Linked DNA regions of Homo sapiens: all the other regions are linked to region 3. The links come from fine-mapping of genetic effects on gene expression. A gene starts in region 3. Each other region holds a variant in brackets. All regions are shown on one strand. Distances are from middle to middle.

The links.
Region 1: its variant is fine-mapped to the expression of MAD2L2 in whole blood (TOPMed, PIP above 0.99).
Region 2: its variant is fine-mapped to the expression of MAD2L2 in whole blood (TOPMed, PIP above 0.99). The same link has a PIP of 0.9 or more in blood mononuclear cells.

The regions. Positions count from the first base shown.
Region 1 is chr1:11,737,549-11,743,624 of GRCh38, reverse strand. All of the region lies in intron 1 of AGTRAP (angiotensin II receptor associated protein), which reads right to left. Among named protein-coding and RNA genes, the nearest start is that of AGTRAP, 4.5 kb to the right of the region's middle. The variant A/G (reference allele first, on the strand shown) is at 3,634.
Region 2 is chr1:11,715,967-11,722,107 of GRCh38, reverse strand. It overlaps DRAXIN (dorsal inhibitory axon guidance protein), which reads right to left. Exons shown (of 7, transcript NM_198545.4): 7 at 1-2,524. The coding sequence ends at 2,412. Among named protein-coding and RNA genes, the nearest start is that of AGTRAP, 17 kb to the left of the region's middle. RefSeq lists an enhancer at 2,295-2,364. The variant A/G (reference allele first, on the strand shown) is at 2,666.
Region 3 is chr1:11,678,094-11,684,078 of GRCh38, reverse strand. MAD2L2 (mitotic arrest deficient 2 like 2) reads left to right here and starts at 2,931. Exons shown (of 9, transcript NM_006341.4): 1 at 2,931-3,040; 2 at 3,466-3,517; 3 at 3,608-3,726. The coding sequence starts at 3,478. RefSeq lists an enhancer at 385-966 and silencers at 2,590-3,109, 3,550-3,609.

The DNA of each region.
Region 1 (6,076 bases), 60 kb before region 3:
ATTGTACTCCAGCCTGGACAACAAGAACAAACCTCCGCCTCAAAAAAAAAAAAAAGGAAAGAAAGAAAAAGGGCAGATGGGCTGGGCGCGGTGGCTCACCCCTGTAATCCCAGCACTGTGGGAGGCCAAGGCAGGTGGATCACTTGAGGTCAGGAGTTCGAGACCAGCCTGGCTAACATGGCGAAACCCTGTCTCTACTAAAAAGACAAAAATTAGCTGGGCATGGTGGTGGGCACCTGTAATCCCAGCTACTCCGGAAGTTGAGGCACGAAAATTACTTGAACCTGGGAGGCAGAGGTTGCAGTGAGCCCAAAATGGGCCACAGCACTCCAGCTTGGGTGACAGAGTGAGACTCCATCTCAAAAAAAAAAAAAGAAAAGAAAAGACAGATGCCTTGGGAGGGCAGGCAGCTGCAGAAAGAGCTTCCAAAGGGAAGGGACCCAGGCTGAGCACAATGTATGAGCGGGGCTCGGCCAGGCAAAGTGGGGCCAAGCCCCAGGCCCTGCATGGGTGGCGGTGGGCATGGAGATAACTGAGGTCGGGGTGGGGTGGCACAGAGACTTTGGGAGGCCAGGAGCCCCAAATTGGGAGCTTCAACGGGCCTGGTGGTCAATGAGGGCCCTAGAAGTTTACTCAAGGGATTGAGGGGTCAGGCTGGAAGGGAGAGATGCCACATGCCTGGGGCAGAGGCAGTGTCCTGGCGCAGACATGGGCAAGGTTTGCGAAGAAGGCCGGGGTTTCTGGCCTGGGTGGAAGGGCAGAAGGAGCCCTCACCACCTGCAAAAAAGAACTGTGGGCCAGGTCTGGTGGCTCACGCCTGTAATCCCAACACTTTAGGAGGTGGAGGGAGAAGACTGCTTGAGCCCAGGAGTTCGAGAACAACCTGGCTAACAAAGTAAGATCCTATCTCTACAAAAAATCAAAAAATTAGCCAGGTATGGTGGAGTACATCTATAGCCCCAGCTACCTGGGAGGCTGAGGTGGGAGAATCACTTGAGCCAGTGAGGTCAAGTGTACAGTGAGCCAAGATCATGCCACTGCACTACAGCCTGGGGGACAGAGCAAGATCCTGCCAGAAAGAGAAAGTAAGGAAAGAAAGAAAAGAAAGAAAGAGAGAAAGAGAAGGAAGAAAGAAAGAAAAAGAAAGAAAAGGAAGGAAAGAAGGAAGGAAGGAAGGAAGGAACGAAGGAAGGGAAAGAAGGGAAAGAAAGGACAGAAAAGAAAGACAGACAAACTCACTCTGGCAGCAGAGGAAAAAGCATTTCTAGAAGAGTTACTCTTGACCACACACCAACTATGTGCCAGGCCCTATGCCAACCGTCTCACATGACCTTATCTGGACCTCACAGCAGCCTCTGGTACTATTATTCCCATTTCACAGATGAGAAAACCAGACTCAGAGATAAATTATGTTGATCAAGACTCCACAGGTAGCAAGTGGCAAAACTGGAATTAAATTTCAAACTCGCCTCCAAAACCAGTGCACCCAACCTCCCCGCTGGGGGCGCAGGCCTTCAGCTGGGAACTGTTTGGGCTTGTGAGAAAGGTCCACACATGGGGGCAGATGGAATCCAGAGCTGGTGGCTGAGATACTTCACCTTTACCTCCAGGGCCCAGGGCCAGAGTGAACCACAAGGGGCCTGGCTCTGTGGCCCAAAAGAAATTCCTTTCTCAGCTCCAAGAGACTAGGAAAATAATTCTGTAAGGACCGATGCACCCAACTTTAAGATCTCGAGACTCTGACCAGGCTGAGTAGTGTGTTACAGAAGTCTAGCTCTAGAAGGAATCTTCGCCATCACCTCACCTACCTTCGTCTACTATTGAGCGCTTCCTATGTGCTAGGTGCCATTCTAAGTGCTTTCTGTATATAAATGCACTAAATCCTTACAATCCTCTGAGGTCTTATTATCCCCATTTTACAGCTGAGAAAACTGAGGCTCAGAAGGAAGTAACTTGCCCAAGGTCACAGAGCAGGCCAGTGGCAGAGCCAGGACTCAAACCCAGGCTGTGCTGTCCAGCCATTAGGCCTCTCCCCATTACAAAGATGGGGAAACTGAGGCAAGAGAGGTGTAGTCTTCCATGGATTTCAATCCCCAGGGGCTTGAAGTGATAAACGGTGTTAAGTTTCTTAAACATTTAGTGTCACCCAGCATCACTGGCACCTGCTTTTCATTCACCCTGGGGAGTCAGAGGTGTGCAGAGCAGATTCGGAGCTGCGCTCTCAGTACTGACCTCGCTAACCAGGTACTCTGCCCTAGGAATGGAGGTGCAGTGAACCCTCATCCCGAAGGAAAGCACCTGATTGAAGGAAAGCATCCTGAAGGAAAGCAAGGGAAAGGGCACCTGATTGAACAGCAGGGAGGCTGGGAGGGTTGGGGTGGTCAGGGGCTTCTCTGAGGAAGGGATGGGGGAGGCTGAGGGGGAAGAAGAGCATTTTGAGCAGGAGGGGCGGCACTCACAAAGGCTCTGTGGCAGAAGGGGGGCGTGGAACTTTCTGGAAACTGAACAGAAGCCAGTGTGGCTGGAGTGGAAGGTGAGGGGAGTGGAGGAGGGAGGGACAGGAAGTTGGGGGCAGGCAGGGCTGGGCATGAGGACGATTCTGATCTTTATCTTCAGAGCTAACCACTGTCCCCTCCATCTGATAGTAAACCCTGGACCACAGACAGGAAGGAACTTGCTCAGGGCCACACCGCAGAGTCAGCCACAGTGGTCCCAACATCCAGCTTTTAAAGAAGACACCGAGGAAAGAGACAGAGGGAAGGTAGCTCCCATCACCCCTTTCCTCCCCAAAATCGACACCTAACTCTTCCCACTCTGGGCTTGTTTTGGAAATGATCTTCATTTTCAATGCTCTCGCTCCTATGCCTAGACTGTACACAGAGTAGGTCTTTAATAAATGGGCCCTGCAGAGCCCTGGATTATTCCGGAAAGAATGGCAGTTAGCATGAAAGGCTGAGTCCCAGGGGGGCCTCTGATCCGCAGGATACCCTAAGGGTCATGCTTACAACCTATGAGGTAAAGGCTTTTCCTAGCGCTGGAAGGGCCTGTAATACAGAGTGAGCACCCAGCTGGGCCCACACCTCTGCCATCTCTGTTAGGGAAGAAAACAACGTAACCTGGAAATACTGCAGATCCTTAGCACACACACAGTCTCCTCTGCGTGACGTCACTTTGGTTTGATAAATATGAACAAAGTTAGCACCAGTTGCTCCTCTTAAGCCCCTGGGAAAAGAAACGTCCAGAAGCCTAAGCCTCCCCTGCCTCAGTTTCTTCATCTGTGTAACAGGAGGACACCCAGAGAGGCCTTAATGTGCAGGAAGACTCCAGGGAGAAACTGAGCCAAACGGGCCCTGCACTTCCTGGCAGCCCAGGGAAAGAGGGGCCAGTAACTGTCAGGACAAAACCACTGTCTTTTGGCCCTGGGGGAGCTTCCTGGTAGCCAAAGAGACACAGGATTCTCAGGTATGGCCTGAAAGAGGAGCTGGAAGCAGGGAAGGAACCTGAGCTAAACGGGTGGCAGGGCCAGGACCTTTCCCAGCTGGGCAGGAAGGACGGACCTGAGCCCCTGGACTCTCACTACAGTGCTCAGCCCAGGGGAGGCCGCCCAGCTCTTTCCCAGACAGGGGTCAATGG[A/G]CCAAGGCAGCAGAGGGTCCCAGGATGCTATGCTGGAACAGGAAACCTGGGTGCTGGTCCAGGCGCCAAGGCCTCAGGCTCCTTTCTGCGAAACGGAGGCAGTACCCATTTGTCCCACGGGGGTGCCTCAACTGCCAGAGACAAGCATCTATCTGGACGGTCACTGTAAGTATCCGTTTACTAACTGTTAAATACCTATGTGGGGCAGGGATCCTGCATCATCAACGACAGCAGCAACTCCTGCTACTGACAAGCACCAGCCTGCCATGCATCTACACTGCACTGCCCCTAACTCATGTCATCCGTGTAACTGTATGGGGTAGAACTGAGGCTCTGAGAGATTAAGTAAATTGGCCCAATTCATAAAGCTTACAAACAACAGAGCCCAGACACAAATGTCAGAATCAATCTATCCAGCCAGAGTTTTTGTTTGTTTTTTTGAGACAGAGTCTTGCTCTGTCGCCCAGGCTGGAGTGCAGTGGTGCGATCTCGGCTCACTGCAACCTCTGCCTCCCGTGTTCAAGTGATCCTCGGTGCCTCAACCTCCTGAATAGCTGGGACTACAGGCGAGCACCACCACACCCAGCTAATTTTTGTATTTTTAGTAGAGGTGGGGTTACATCATGTTGGCCAGGCTGGTCTCGAACTCCTGACCTCAAATGATCCACCTGCCTGGGTCTCCCAAAGTGCTAGGATTACAGGTGTGAGCCACCACGCCTGGCCCAGCCTGAATTTGTAACCCTAATTCTAGACTACGTCCTGGACCATGGATCCATCATCCTAGGAGGTAGGGACTGTATTTAACTTCTTTTTACAATGAAGAAATAGATACTGAGAGAGTTCAGAAACCTACTCAAGGTCACACAGAAACCTACTCAAGACCTTGAATGCAGACCTGCCTGCCCCCAAAGCCTGTGCTCTGTCCACTGTGCTACACCGTCAGGATCTCGAAGAGCCGTAGAGGGCAGATGGAAATGAGGAAGTCTAACCTGGAGAAGGAAAGGCTGAAGAGAAACCAGCAGGGCATGCAGACCAAGACTTAAACCCTTTGTTTGCCACTAGAGGACCCATGGCGGGGTAGGACTTCCCAGAAATGGAATAAACTCCTACCAGTCCTGTGCAAACACTTGGTGGCCTGTTACACGTGCTAGTGAGATCCCCCAGGGTGGCCGGGGCCCAGGGACACCAGTCAGGGCTGCCAAGGATGGGAGGCAGAGTTGTGCAGCGGTTAACTTCGTGGGTACTGGAGGCAAACAGGTGGATCTGATCCTGGCTCCATGACTTTAGAACCTAGTGACCTTAGGCAAGTCACCTGACCTCTCAGAACAGCTGTTGGCTCTTCTGCAAAGAAGGGCAATACTGCCTGATTCAGTGTTGTTGTGTGGATCCAGTGGTACAGGGAGGTGGAGAGGTGTGGGAAGCGCTCCACACAGTGCCTGTGAGGAATTCAGCCCTCCATCCCAGCAGTCCTCATTACTGAGTTTTTAACCCAAATGCTACACGACTACCTCCTAGACCACCAGATCCTCCTCCCAAGGTCTTCTTCCCACAAGACCTCTGTACCCTAGTCCAGTCCTTTCTAAGCTCATCACAATGTCATTCTTGCAGCTCAGGACCTGGCTTCAAGAGACATGGACAGGGCTTGGTCAGGAGCTGCCCTTTGTGCAAAGGGCCTGGGGCAGTTGTTTCTTCTCACCTGGCACCACTGCCCACTCTGGCTGAGCTGGGCAGAAGCAGGCACTCAGCCCTTGCCCAAGGAATATACAAAACGAGGGAGTGGGGAGGGAGTGCAGGCCACAGGGAGCAGTTCCCCACCTCCTGAAGGGCTCTGAACTCAGAACATCCCCTAAGTGCCTATAAGCAAGGAGTCAACAGCTGCCCTCCACAGGGTGGCCAGATCCAGCAAACAAAAATACAGAACACCCAGTTAATTTCCAATATCAGATCATGAATAATTTGTTAATATGTCCCACATATTGCCTGAGACTTACTCATACTAAAAAACTGTTCGTTGTTGATCTGAAATTCAAATTCACCTGGATCTCCTGTACACGACCTGACAACCCTGACCCCTCAGGGCCTTCCAGCACTTTGTTGTCTCTGACTGGTAGCGGCTAACACCCTTGGAGACTGGGGTCTCGTTTGCCAAGTCAAGGGGAGGACCAGCCTTTTCATCCTGGGTACCGAAAGCCAGCATAGCTCATACCTGTGGATGCTCTTAGCCTGTCAGGCCCAAAAAGTTGCTCAAAAAAAGCCCCAAAGAGACTAAGCCCTCCCAAAGGACAGAAACAGCCAACGTTAAAGTCAGCCCTAAGCTGGTACCCCAGAAAGGACCTGGCCCTGGAGTCTGATCCCTATGGGTTCAAATCCTGATATTGCCACTTACTCCCCGTGGGACCTTGGCAATTTACCCAGTCTAAGCTGAAGTTTGCTCATCTGTAAA
Region 2 (6,141 bases), 38 kb before region 3:
CTCTGTCGCCCAGGCTGGAGTGCAATGGCGTGATCTTGGCTCACCGCAACCTCCGCCTCCTGGGTTCAAGTGATTCTCCCGCCTGAGCCTCCTGAGTAGCTGGGATTACAGGCACCTGCCACCATGCCTGGCTAATTTTTGTATTTTTAGTAGAGATGGGGTTTCACCATGTTGGTCAGGCTGTTCTCGAACGCCTTACTTCAAGTGATCTGCCTACCTCGGCCTCCCAGAGTGCTGGGATGTCAGACATGAGCCCTCGTGCCCAGCCTTAATTTTTGTATATTTGGTAGAGACCGGGTTTTGCCATGTTGGCCAGGCTGGTCTCAAACTCCTGACCTGAGGTGGTCCGCCCACCTCAGCCTCCCAAAGTGCTGGGATTACAGGCATGAGCCATTGTGTCTAGCCATATCTGCCTTTCAGCTAGCCTGCTTTGATCTCCCAGTTCCCCTGCCCTCCCTGCTCCCTCCCCACAAGGTTCCCATGCCCATCAAACTTGGATAGGGAGAGAACAAGCATATTTAATTTCTTCTAGATCTGCCTGCTTTCCTTGGTGCCTGACCCCTGACCCCGACTGATTTTTCCAACGCAGTAAACATCTCTGGCATCTTATGGGCGTGATCCAGGCCAGTGAGGAATTTGGCCAGGAAAGTCTTTTGTCATTTGCAACCTGGTTCGCCCTGGAACAGAGGGTTGGCCAGGAGTGAGATGCCAAGTGGGGGGATTTAAATGGTTCTCCTGAAGTGACCCCTGAAGCCAGATCTGCTGGGACAGATGTCCTGGGTGGGCATTGTGAGTCTGGCCTGTTAGGGGCAGTTAGCTTCAGATAGCACCTCAATTTCAGGTGAGCCTCAACTTCCCAGTGGGCTCTGCTGCAAAAATGTGGGGTGGGGTTCCAGGGATGGTTTTGTGGTCCTGGAAATCACTAAACAGTATGCAAAGTGGGTAAACATGGGCAATATGTGTGGGGTTTTTTTGGATTCCATGCTTGCATCAGAACCCCTGGGGGGGAAGTGCTCCAGAAAACTGTAAAGTGCCTGTCCAGGACTGGATGATCAGGACCACAGGGACATAAAGGCCAACATGATTCTTTTCCCCAAACACTTCTTATCCCAGGATATCAGCTACTAGACCACAGGGATCAACCTGCCCAACTTATTCCTGCAAGCAAGTATGTGCTTAAGTTGTATTTTGTTTTGTTTTTAAACATGATACACCTTTATCCAGGGAAGGCAGAGAACAGTCAAGTTATTCCAGCCACAGAGGAAGGGAATACCAGGGTGTGAGCCTCTCTTGCCAAAAGCCTTAGAGAATCTGGAAGAAATTCTTGGCTGTGGAGCAGCAAGAACGTGGGCCTTGGAGCTGGACAGCCTTGGCCCAGGTTCATGTCCTTGCTCTGCCATGTACTTCCCAGGACCTCTCAGTGGGTCCCTGGGCCAGCAGCCTCGCGTTCCCTGGGAGCTTGTTAGAGCACAGAGCCCACTGAGTCAGATGTGCTTTTTTTTTTTTTTTTTTTTGAGATGGAGTTTCACTCTTGTCCCCCAGGCTGGAGTGCAGTGGCACGATCTCTGCTCACTGCAACCTCTGCCTCCCAAGTTCAAGCGATTCTGGTGCCTCAGCCTCCGAGTAGCTGGGATTACAGGTGTGCACCACCGCGCCTGGCCTAATTTTTGTATTTTTAATAGAGACGGGGTTTCCCCATGTTGGCCAGGCTGGTCTCGAACTCCTGACCTCAGGTGAGCCACCCGCCTTGGCCTCCCAAAGTGCTGGGATTACAAGCGTGAGCCGCCGCGCCCGGCCAGATGTACATTTTTAACTGGACCTCCAGGTGACTCTTAGCATGTTCAGGTTTGAGGAGCACTGACCTGGGACCCTGGGCAAGTCGAGTCAAATAACTCCAGCGTGCCTCACGGTCCTCAACCTGTCGCATGGTGATAATGCCTACTTGAAAAGGTCGTTGTGATAATTCAATGAGATAATGTATTCCAGCACTTAGCACAGTGCCTGGTACATAGGAGATGTTCCATATTCATCTCCTGATGGTGGACCTTCTTTCGGGAAGTTTAAATTTCTTTTCCACTCTCAAAAACGCCTCTTGGTTTTGAACTTGAAGCTGTTGCAGTGCTGGAGTCGGACAGTAGAGGGCACTCTCGGCATTGCCATCGCGGAGAGCAAGACACGCGGGATGGAGGCTGCGTGGGTCCGGACTTCGTGTGTGCAGGTGCTGCGGGCCGGCTCCTGGGCACCCACCCAGCTCATTCGCCGAGCGGCTCCCCTCCTGGGGTTGAGTGTCCTGGGCCTGAGTCTGCAGCCTCAGCCATCTGTTCCCCAACTTGATCTCCCACTGCTAGTTACAAACAAATCGCCCGGCTTGTGCAAACCTCCTGGGCTCAGTCCCCAGTCCCGCGGGGCCGCTAGACGTTGATGAAGGATCCCTGGTCGCCGTTGGCCGTCTCGGGCTCCACACAGCGCCCTTTCCTCCGTGTAACCCTGCGGTTCCGGTGGAATTTGGCATAGCAGCGCAGCCCTGGGCGAGTGGAGGCAAGGGGGGTCAGAGGCGCGAAGGGCCCGTGCCCTCCCCTTCCTTCCCCTGCACGCTCGGGGCCAGCCAGCTCCCTCCTGCCTTCATTATTCTGCCCTACAACCCAGCTTCCTCACGGCAGCCCCA[A/G]TGAGCTTAAAAGACACGAACCCGGAAGAGGGGAGGAATGAACACGGAAGGAGAACAGAGAAGACTCAGGGCGGTCGGGGCGGTGAACATATTCTGTGTGACACGTAATGGTGGGACATGGCATGCATTTGTCAAAACCCACAGAATGCACCGCACAGTGAACTATAACTTACGTTGACTTCAGTTAGTAATAATAATACATCACTATTGGTTTGTCAAGCAACAAATGTACCAAGAGAGGCCGGGCACGGTGGCTCACGCCTATAATCCCAGCGCTTTGTAAGGCCGAGGCAGGTGGATCACTTGAGGTCAGGAGTTTGAGACCAGCCTGGCCAACATGGTGAAACCCCGTCTCTACTTAAAAAAATACAAAAACTACCCGGGCATGGTGGTGGGTGCCTGTAATCCCCGTTACTTGGGAGGCTGAGGCAGGAGAATCACATGAACCCGGGAGGTGGAGCTTGCAGTGAGCCAAGATCATGCCACTGCACTCCAGCTGGGGCGACAGAGCTAGACTCCCTCTCAGAAAACAAACAAACAAACAAACAAACAAACAAATCTACCACATGATTGCAAGATGTTATTAATAGGAGAAACTGCATGCAGGGGCAAAGCAGGTATATGAGAACCACATTCTGTGAAATTTTTCTAGAAAACTGCTCTAAAAATAAAGTCCACAGGGTACGGTGGCTCACACCCGTAATCCCAGCACTTTGAGAGGCTGAGGTGGGAGGATCGCTTGAGCCCAGTAGTTCCAGACCAGCCTAAGCAACATAGGGAGACCCTATCTCTACAAAAAATGTAAAAATTAGCCAGGCATTGTGGCATACACCTGTAGTCCCAACTATAGGAAGGAGGGGCTAACATGAGAGGATCCTTTGAGCCCAGGAGTTCCAGGCTGCAGTGCGCCTTGGTTGCACCACTGTAGTTCAGCCTGGGTAACAGAGTGAGACTCTGTCTCAAAAAAATTAAAAAATAAAATACACAGATAAATTCAATTAAAAAGTCTATAATCTTGAAAATTGGAAAGGAAAAAGGTTATTAAATTTTTTTTTAAGTGGCTCAAATTCTGCCCTTCCCTGTAAAACATCCTATGGAGAGCCATTGCTTTTTTTTTTTTTTTTTTTGAGATGGAGTTTTGCTCTTGTCACCCAGGCTGGAGTGCAGCGGCACCATCTTGGCTTATGAAACCTCTGCCTCCTGGGTTCAAGTGATTCTCCTGCCTCAGCCTCTCGAGTAGCTGGGATTACAGGCATGCGCCACCACACCCAGCTAATTTTGTATTTTTTTTTTTTTTTTTTAGCAGAGATGGGGTTTCACCATGTTGGCCAGGCTGGTCTTGAACTCCTGGCCTCAAGTGATCTGCCCACCTCCGCCTCCCAAAGTGATGGGATTACAGGCATGAGCCACCGTGCCGGGCCTCCCTTTTTTTTTTTTTTTTTGAGACAGGGTCTTGCTCTGTTGCCTGGACTGGAGTGCAGTGGCATGGCAAGATCTCGGCTCACTGCAATCTCTGCCTCCTGGGCTCAAGTGATCCTCCCCACTTCAGCCTCCCAAGTAGCTGGTACTATGGGTGTGCGCCACCACACCCGGCTAATTTTTTTTTTTTTTTTTGTATTTTTGGTAGAGACAGTGTCTCTCTACCTTGCCAAGGCTGGTCTCCAACTCCGGGCTCAAGGATCCACCTGCCTTGGCCTCCCAAAATGCTGGGATTACAGGCATGAACCACCCCGCCTGGCCTCCAATGCCCACTTCTGTCTACCCTTTCTTTTTTTTTTTTTGAGACGGAGTCTCTCTCTGTTGCCCAGGCTGGAGTGCAGAGGCACGATCTCAGCTCACTGCAACCTCCGCCTCCTGGTTTCAAGAGATTCTCCTGCCTCAGCCTCCTGAGTAGCTGGGATTACAGGTGCGCGTCACCACACCCGGCTAATTTTTGTATTTTTAGTAGAGATGGGATTTCACCATGTTGGTCAGGCTGGTCTCAAACTCCTGACCTCATGATCTGCCCGCCTTGGCCTCCCAAAGTGCTGAGATTACAGGCATGAACCACTCCCCTGGCCTCCAATGCCCACTTCTGTCTACCCTTTCTAAAACAACTGTAGGACTCATTATCATATTATTATCTTTATAGCCCTTATTACTTACTTTTTTTTTCTTTTTGAGACAGAGTCTCACTCAGTCACCCAGGCTGGAGTGCAATGGCAGGATCTCGGCTCACTGCAATCTCTGCCTCCCGGGTTCAAGCGATTCTCATGCCTCAGGCTCCCGAGTAGCTGGAATTACAGGCAAGTGCCACCATGCCCATCTAATTTTTGTATTTTTAGTAGAGACAGGGTTTCACCATGTTGGCCAGGCTGGTCTCACTCCTGACCTCAAGTGATCCTCCTGCCTCGGCCTCCCAAAGTGCTAGGATTACAGGCATGAGCCACCATGCTCGGCCATAGCCCTTATTATTTTCTAAAGACATACTATCTATGTATTTGATTGTTGTCTGCTCATATCACTAGAATGTAATTCATGGGCACAGAACTTGCTGGTTCTTTTCACTACTGAACCCCCCAGTGTCCAGAGCAATGTCTGATACGCAGTAGGTGCTCCCTAAATATTTAACTGATTAGATGAGTGAATAATCAGAACTACATAGCTTTATTGCCGAGGCGGGAGGATCCCTTGAGCCCGGGAGTTAAAGCTACAGAGAGCTGGGATTGCGCCACTGCACTCCAGCCTGGGTGACAGAGTGAAACCCTGTCTCAAAAAATAATTAAATTAAATTTAAAAGTCCACAATTTTAAAAATTGGGAAGAAAAAGATGTATTATCATCATTTTTAAGACAGGGTCTCGCTCCATCATCCAGGCCGGAGTGCAGTGGCACGATCATGGTAGATAACTCTCTGAGGCTAATATGAGCAAAACGGGGCATGTATCTCAGGTCCACAGAGGGGCTGAGCCCCAATTCCCCCATCCAGGAGATGTGTGAATGCTGATTTGATATTGGATGGAACTGATTAATTATCGTTCATGTTTGGCATTTTGTTTTTAAAAGAGTACTTGTCTTTCAGAGGTACACACTAAAATATTCACAGGTGAAATACCTGTAAGCTCCCAGGAGTTGCTTAGAAATCATGTCGGAATAAGGAAAGTGTGTGAGAGATGATAGACACAGATTGGCCGTGAGTTGGTATTGAAGCAGAGTGATGAGAAATGGGCGCTCATTAGACTATTCTAACTACTTTAGTATATATTTGAAACTTTGCAGAATACAAAATTGAAACTGGCTGGGTGTGGTGGCTCATGCCTGTAATCCCAGAACTTTGGGAGGCCAAGACAGGTGGATCGCTTGAGGTCAGGAGTTTGAAACCAGCCTAGGGAACATGGCAAAACTCTGCCTCTACCAGAAATACAAAAATTAGCTGGGCTGGTGGCATGCGCCTGTAGTCAGAGCTACCTGCAGGGCTGGGATGGGAGGATCACCTAA
Region 3 (5,985 bases):
TCAGATGGGTTTGAATCCCTCCCCATCTGCTTCCTAACCCACCTTCCTTCTGTTTGTGATTGGATCTGAACCCAAGGCCCCAAACCCAGACTTTTTTTGTTTTTTTGAGATGGAGTTCTCGCTCTTGTTGCCCAGGCTGGAGTGCAATGGTGCGATCTTGGCTCACCACAACCTCCGCCTCCCGGGTTCAAGTGACTGTCCTGCCTCAGCCTCCTGAGTAGCTGGGATTACAGGCATGCGCCACCACACCTGGCTAATTTTGTATTTTTAGTAGAGATGGGGTTTCTCCATGTTGGTCAGGTTGATCTCAAACTCCTGACCTCAGGTGATCCACCAGCCTCAGCCTCCCAAAGTGCTGGGATTACAGGCGTGAGCCACCCACCGTGCCCAGCTGACGTTTTTTTTTAATTGCAATAATTTTTGGTTACATGGGTAAGTTATTTAGTGGTGACTGCTGAGATTTTGGTGCATCCATCACCTCAGCAGTGTACACTGTACCCAGTATGTAGTCTTTTGTCCCTCACCTTCCCACCCTTCCCTCACCTTCCCACCCTTCCTTCCCCCCGAGTCCCCAAAGTCCAATATATCATTCCTATGCCTTTGCATCCTCATAGGTTAACTCCCACTTACAAGTGAGAACATATGATATTTGCAAACCCAGATATTTTTATCCACAGGTTTCTAGTTGACAGGGTGGGTACTCCAGTGTCAAGAGCTGTTGGGACCTCAGTTTCCCCAAGGAAAAATGACAGTTGAGTTTATGTCCTCCAAGGTTTTTCTGACGTTCTTAGCTCTGTGTGTCAGGAGTTCTACGGGTGGCTCGTATTGTGTTTTCTCAGGGCAGAGGGCTGGGGCTGGGAGCTCATGGAGGGAGGGCCTGACTTGAGCCCCAATGCCCCTCACACTGTGTCCTGAAGGCCATCCCACAGGAGTCACTTGGCTCTCAGTTTCCCCACCCCAGGCCCCAGTCTGAAGGGCTCCTTTGCAAGGAGTTGCCCCCTATGACTGCCACTGCCTGTCACCAATGCAAAAGCTGCTTAAGCAGCCTCCAGAGAGGGAAAGGAAAGACCCTTGCTTTTCCCAAGTTCTGCAATGAGTCAGTCTCAAGGAGCCACGGAACTCTGTGTATAAGCCAGTGAGTTGCTTGGCCAGCTCTGTGTGGAAATGGCATGATGTGTGCAGGATCCCCATATCTTGAGAATGGTTGCTGTGCCCAGAATGTGCTGCCAAGTGCACCAGTTCCTAAAACAAAATCATCCATCCCTTTGGATGGATGATTTTACATCACAATTTTACAAAATGCATCGCATTTTTACAAAATGAAGATATTCTCTGGGAACAGTCCAAACCTCTGTGGTGATTCCCACACTTTGCTGGGCATCCGGGCCCCTGGGGAGCTTGTTAAAGGGCCAGTGCCCTGCTGTGCACCCCACCTCGATCAGGTTGCTCTAGGCAGCAGGGCAGCTGTGATTAATGGGCTCCTGGGGGATTCTGATGCAGATTTCCTAGGACTGCATTTGAAGAAATGTTTTGCTGACATTCCTAGCTTAATGGGTTACTTACAGGTTACTTTTTCTCTCCCCATTAGAAGTCTGGAAATGCAGGTTTGAAGGCATCAGGGGGCGGGGGGAGGGATCCAGGTCTTCTATAATGAGCTGTAAACGATAAACAAGTCTGGCTAGATCTGTGTCCAAACAGACGGATGGGACTAACAAGCTCTTACGTCCCTGGAGGTCACAGACAAAGTCCTCTTGGCTTCTGGTCCTGACTTGTTGCCCACTAACTCCGTAGCTGCTTCTCAGATCTTAGTTTTCTCACTTGTAAAATAAGGGGGCTGTAAATAAGTGGAAGCCCTGGTGTCAGAAGAGGCATCAGAGCTGGGTTTGTATTCCCACTGTGTGATTTTGGCGAATTAGAGAACGTTTCTGGGCCTGTTTAACCATCTGTAAAGTGGGGCTATAAAATGGAGACTTAGCTGCTAGGGTTAATGAGAGAATTAACGGAATCAGTGTTTGACACATAAGAAGTGCTCGATGTTAGTCATTATTTTTTATTATTTTAGTAATATCATCTCTGAGGGCCCTTACAGGACTTCCAGACCGAGTCCACGCCCCTGGGGGACTTGGGAGCAGTAAAATGTAGTGGCAGGAGGCACCTCGGCCATCGCCCACCCCACCAGCTGGGAGACTCGGGCAGGTTATTCACCCTTCTGCACCTCGCTTGACTTATCTGTATAAAGAGAACAGTCACAGTAACTGCCTCATGGAGTTACTCCCAGGACTGAGATAATCCACGGACACACTTAGCCCAGTGCCCAGCACTCGGCTGGAGCTCCAAAAAGGTCAGCTATTGTTATGAAGCGTAGGGCGGGGAGGGTTCATCCTCTTGGGCGGTCAGGCCAGGCTGCATTTAGGTACCCGGTGGGGGCGGAGCAGGGGCGACGCCGGTGCACGCCCTCTTTTTTTTATTTTTAAAATTTCACCCGGGCCTTGACAACCGGTACAATCCTGTCCTCCCCTGTTCCCGCCCCCGAGCCAGAGGATTCGCTTTTGCGTGGGCAGCTGCAGGGATGGTGACTCGGGCTAGCTCAGATGTGGCTGCCGTTAGTCCCCAGCTGCGCGCTCCCCCGTCCCTCCCCAGCCCTCTTCCGGCGCCTGCTAAAGCGAGAGAAATGCCCTCGGGGGAAGATATGTAGCGATCCAATGGAACGTGGAGATCAACGTTGTGTTTTCTTCGCGCCCACCCGAAGTTGAAGGGAGGTGGCGCGGCGGGTCTCAGCCCCTCCCGGACGCCGAGGCCCGGCCCCCGCCCCTCGGAGACCCGCCCCCGCATGCGGAACCGCCCTCTGCGAGGCCCGGTTTGGGCCGTGCGGGAATGGGCGTGGCCTGGGCGGGGCGGGCGCTAGGACCCACCGGAGCGCCGTGAACGTCACCGAGCGGCGCCGAGGCCCCGGGTTGAGCGGGAGGCGCGATCGGTCCGGTCGGTGGCTCCCCGCGGCGGGGCCGGGCCCGATCTCGGGCGGGAACCGAGCGCAGAGCCGGTACTGGGGGAGGGGAGAGGGGGCGGGATTCCCGCCGGGAGGGATCCGGCGTAGCAGGGGGCGGAGTCTTATTCCAACCCCGCTTCGCTTTCCGCATGTCCCGCTTTGCGCTCCCGGCCCTGGGCATCCCGCTGTTTCCCTCTGCGTCCGCGGCCCTGCCCTTTTCGGGGGCACAGCTGTGGTCTTTCCACCCCGCGAGACAGCGGGGCGAGGGGGCGCGGGCGGCCAGTGGATAGAGGCTGATGCCCCCAAGCACGGACGCCAGCGTGGGGGTGGAGGTTCTTCCAGCTGCCCTGAGCCTGTGCGAAGCGGGAGGTCCTTCCCCAGTTCCCACAGACTGTGGGGAGGGAAGAGACGGTGGAAGCGAGCGGGTTCTGGGCTCCTGGGTCTCTGGAACTACCCTCTGCCCTTGCCCCAACACTCAGGTAGCGGGAAGGATGACCACGCTCACACGACAAGACCTCAACTTTGGCCAAGGTAGGGAGGCTGGACCTGCGGGCCCGGGGGCGGGGGCGTCTGGGCCGGCGGGCTTCCTCGAGCGCGCCACCGGCTTGTGCCCCCCTGCAGTGGTGGCCGATGTGCTCTGCGAGTTCCTGGAGGTGGCTGTGCATCTCATCCTCTACGTGCGCGAGGTCTACCCCGTGGGCATCTTCCAGAAACGCAAGAAGTACAACGTGCCGGTCCAGGTGAGGCACGTCCCAGAACCACAGAGTGGGTACAGGGTGGACTTTTAAAAATTCTTTGGTCGGGCGCCGTGGCTCACGCCTGTAATCCTAGCACTTTGGGAGGCCGAGGCGGGCGGATCACCTGAGGTCAGGAGTTCGAGACCAGCCTGACAAACATGGTGAAACCCCGTCTCTACTAAAAATACAAAAATTAGCCGGGCGTGGTGGCCAAGGCCTGTAATCCCAGCTACTCAGGAGGCTGAGGCAGGAGAATCCCTTGAACCCAGGAGGCGGAGGTTGCAGTGAGCCGAAATTGTGCCACTGCATTCCAGCCTGGGTGACAAGAGCGAAACTCCGTCTCAAAAAAAAAAAAAAAAAAAAAAAAAAACCTCTTCCACTTCGGGCCAAGCCACCTCATTCCGCAGGGCCCTGCCCATGCCTTCCAATGCCTTCCAGTTCCAAAGTGGTGATGCCTACCCACCCCTCAGAAGAGAGTTCCCCTTGCCAGAAGTTAGGGACCAGGCCTGATAAGAGTTACCCCGGGGGTGGCCGGGCATGGTGGCTCACACCTGTAATCCCAGCACTTTGGGAGGCTGAGGCGGGCGAATCACAAGGTCAGGAGTTCAAGAAACCAGCCTGACCAACATGATGAGATCCTGTCTCTACTAAAAATACAAAAATTAGCCTGGTGTGGTGGTACGCGCCTGTAATCCCAGTTACTAGGGAGGCTGAGGCAGGAGACTCGCTTGAACCCGGGATGCAGAGGTTGAAGTAAGCCCAGATCGTGCCACTGCACTCCAGCCTGGGCGACAGAGCAAGACTATGTCTCCAAAAAAAAAAGTTACCCTGGGGGCATGGTGGCACTTTGAAGGAGCTCGTGAAGCTGGTGAACCTTGGTGTGAGGAGGGTATTTCCAAAAACCTCCAAATCTTCTCCCTACCATTTATCCTAAACTCAATGGGTTAAGGCTAAAAGGCAGACAAAGCAGTGTGCATCGCACTGTAGCTCCAGTCCCTAGAAGTGCCTGTCTCTGGAAGGCACTCAGGAAACATGAGAATAAGTGGTAGAAGCTCAAAGGACATCCAGGTGGTCCCCGCTTCAAGTCCCCACACCACCATTGTTTTCTCACTTCCAGTATGGTATTCAAGACATTACTTGAGGTAGTCAGCACTTTATTTTTTATTTTATATTTTATTTTATTTTATTTTTTGAGACTGAGTCTCGCTCTGTCGCCCTGGCTGGAGTGCAGTGGCGTGATCTTGGCTCACTGCAACCTCCACCTCCTGGGTTCAAGTGATTCTCCTGCCTCAGCCTCCCGAGTAGCTGGGATTACAGGCGTGTGCCACCACATCTGGCTAATTTTTGTATTTTTAGTAGAGACAAGGTTTCGCCGTGTTGGCCAGGCTGGTCTCGATCTCCTGACCTCTGGTGATCCACCTGCCTTGGCCTCCCAAAGTGCTGGGATTACAGGCGTGAGCACTTTATTATGAAACAGGTTTTGTGTTAGATAATGTTGCCCAACTGTGGGCTAATGTGTTTTGAGTGTGTTTAGGTAGGCCTGGCTAAGCTATGATGTTCTGTATGTTATGTGTATTAACTGCATTTTCCGCTGGCGATATTTGATTGGTTTATCCAAACATAAACCCATAGTAAGTTGAAGGTCACCTTTAGAGGGGAAAGGAAAAAACAATTGACATTTACTCACTTCTTCTTTATGATGAAGTGATTGAAGCCCAGAGAAGTTAAGGAATTTGCCTGAGGCCACACAGTTCCTTAGTTCTTAACTTTTGACATCTGATTACATTTTCCTGGATCCTTTTTCTGGAAAAATGCCCAAGTGCACAAAGATACAACTTTAGGGATTTTTCAGACTCTGGAGGAGTCCATGGACCCCACATTAAGAACCCCTAATGGTATATTAAATGCTCATATTGGGATTGAGTTCTTATCTTTCTTTTCCTTTGAGATGGAGTCTTGCTTTGTTGCCCAAGCTGGAGTGCAGTGGCTTGATCTCAGCTCACTGCAACCTCCGCCTCCCAGGTTCAAGTGATTCTCCTGCCTCAGCCTCCCAAGTAGCTGGGATTACAGGTGCCACCTCACCTGGCTAATTTTTGTATTTTTAGTAGAGATGGGGTTTTGCCATTTTGGCCAGGCTGGTCTCAAACTCCTGACCTCAGGTGATCCACCCACCTCATCCTCTCAAAGTGCTGGGATTAGAGGAGTGAGCCACTGTGCCCAGCCTGAGTTCTTATCTTCTAACTTCTTTCTCTATGGATAAGT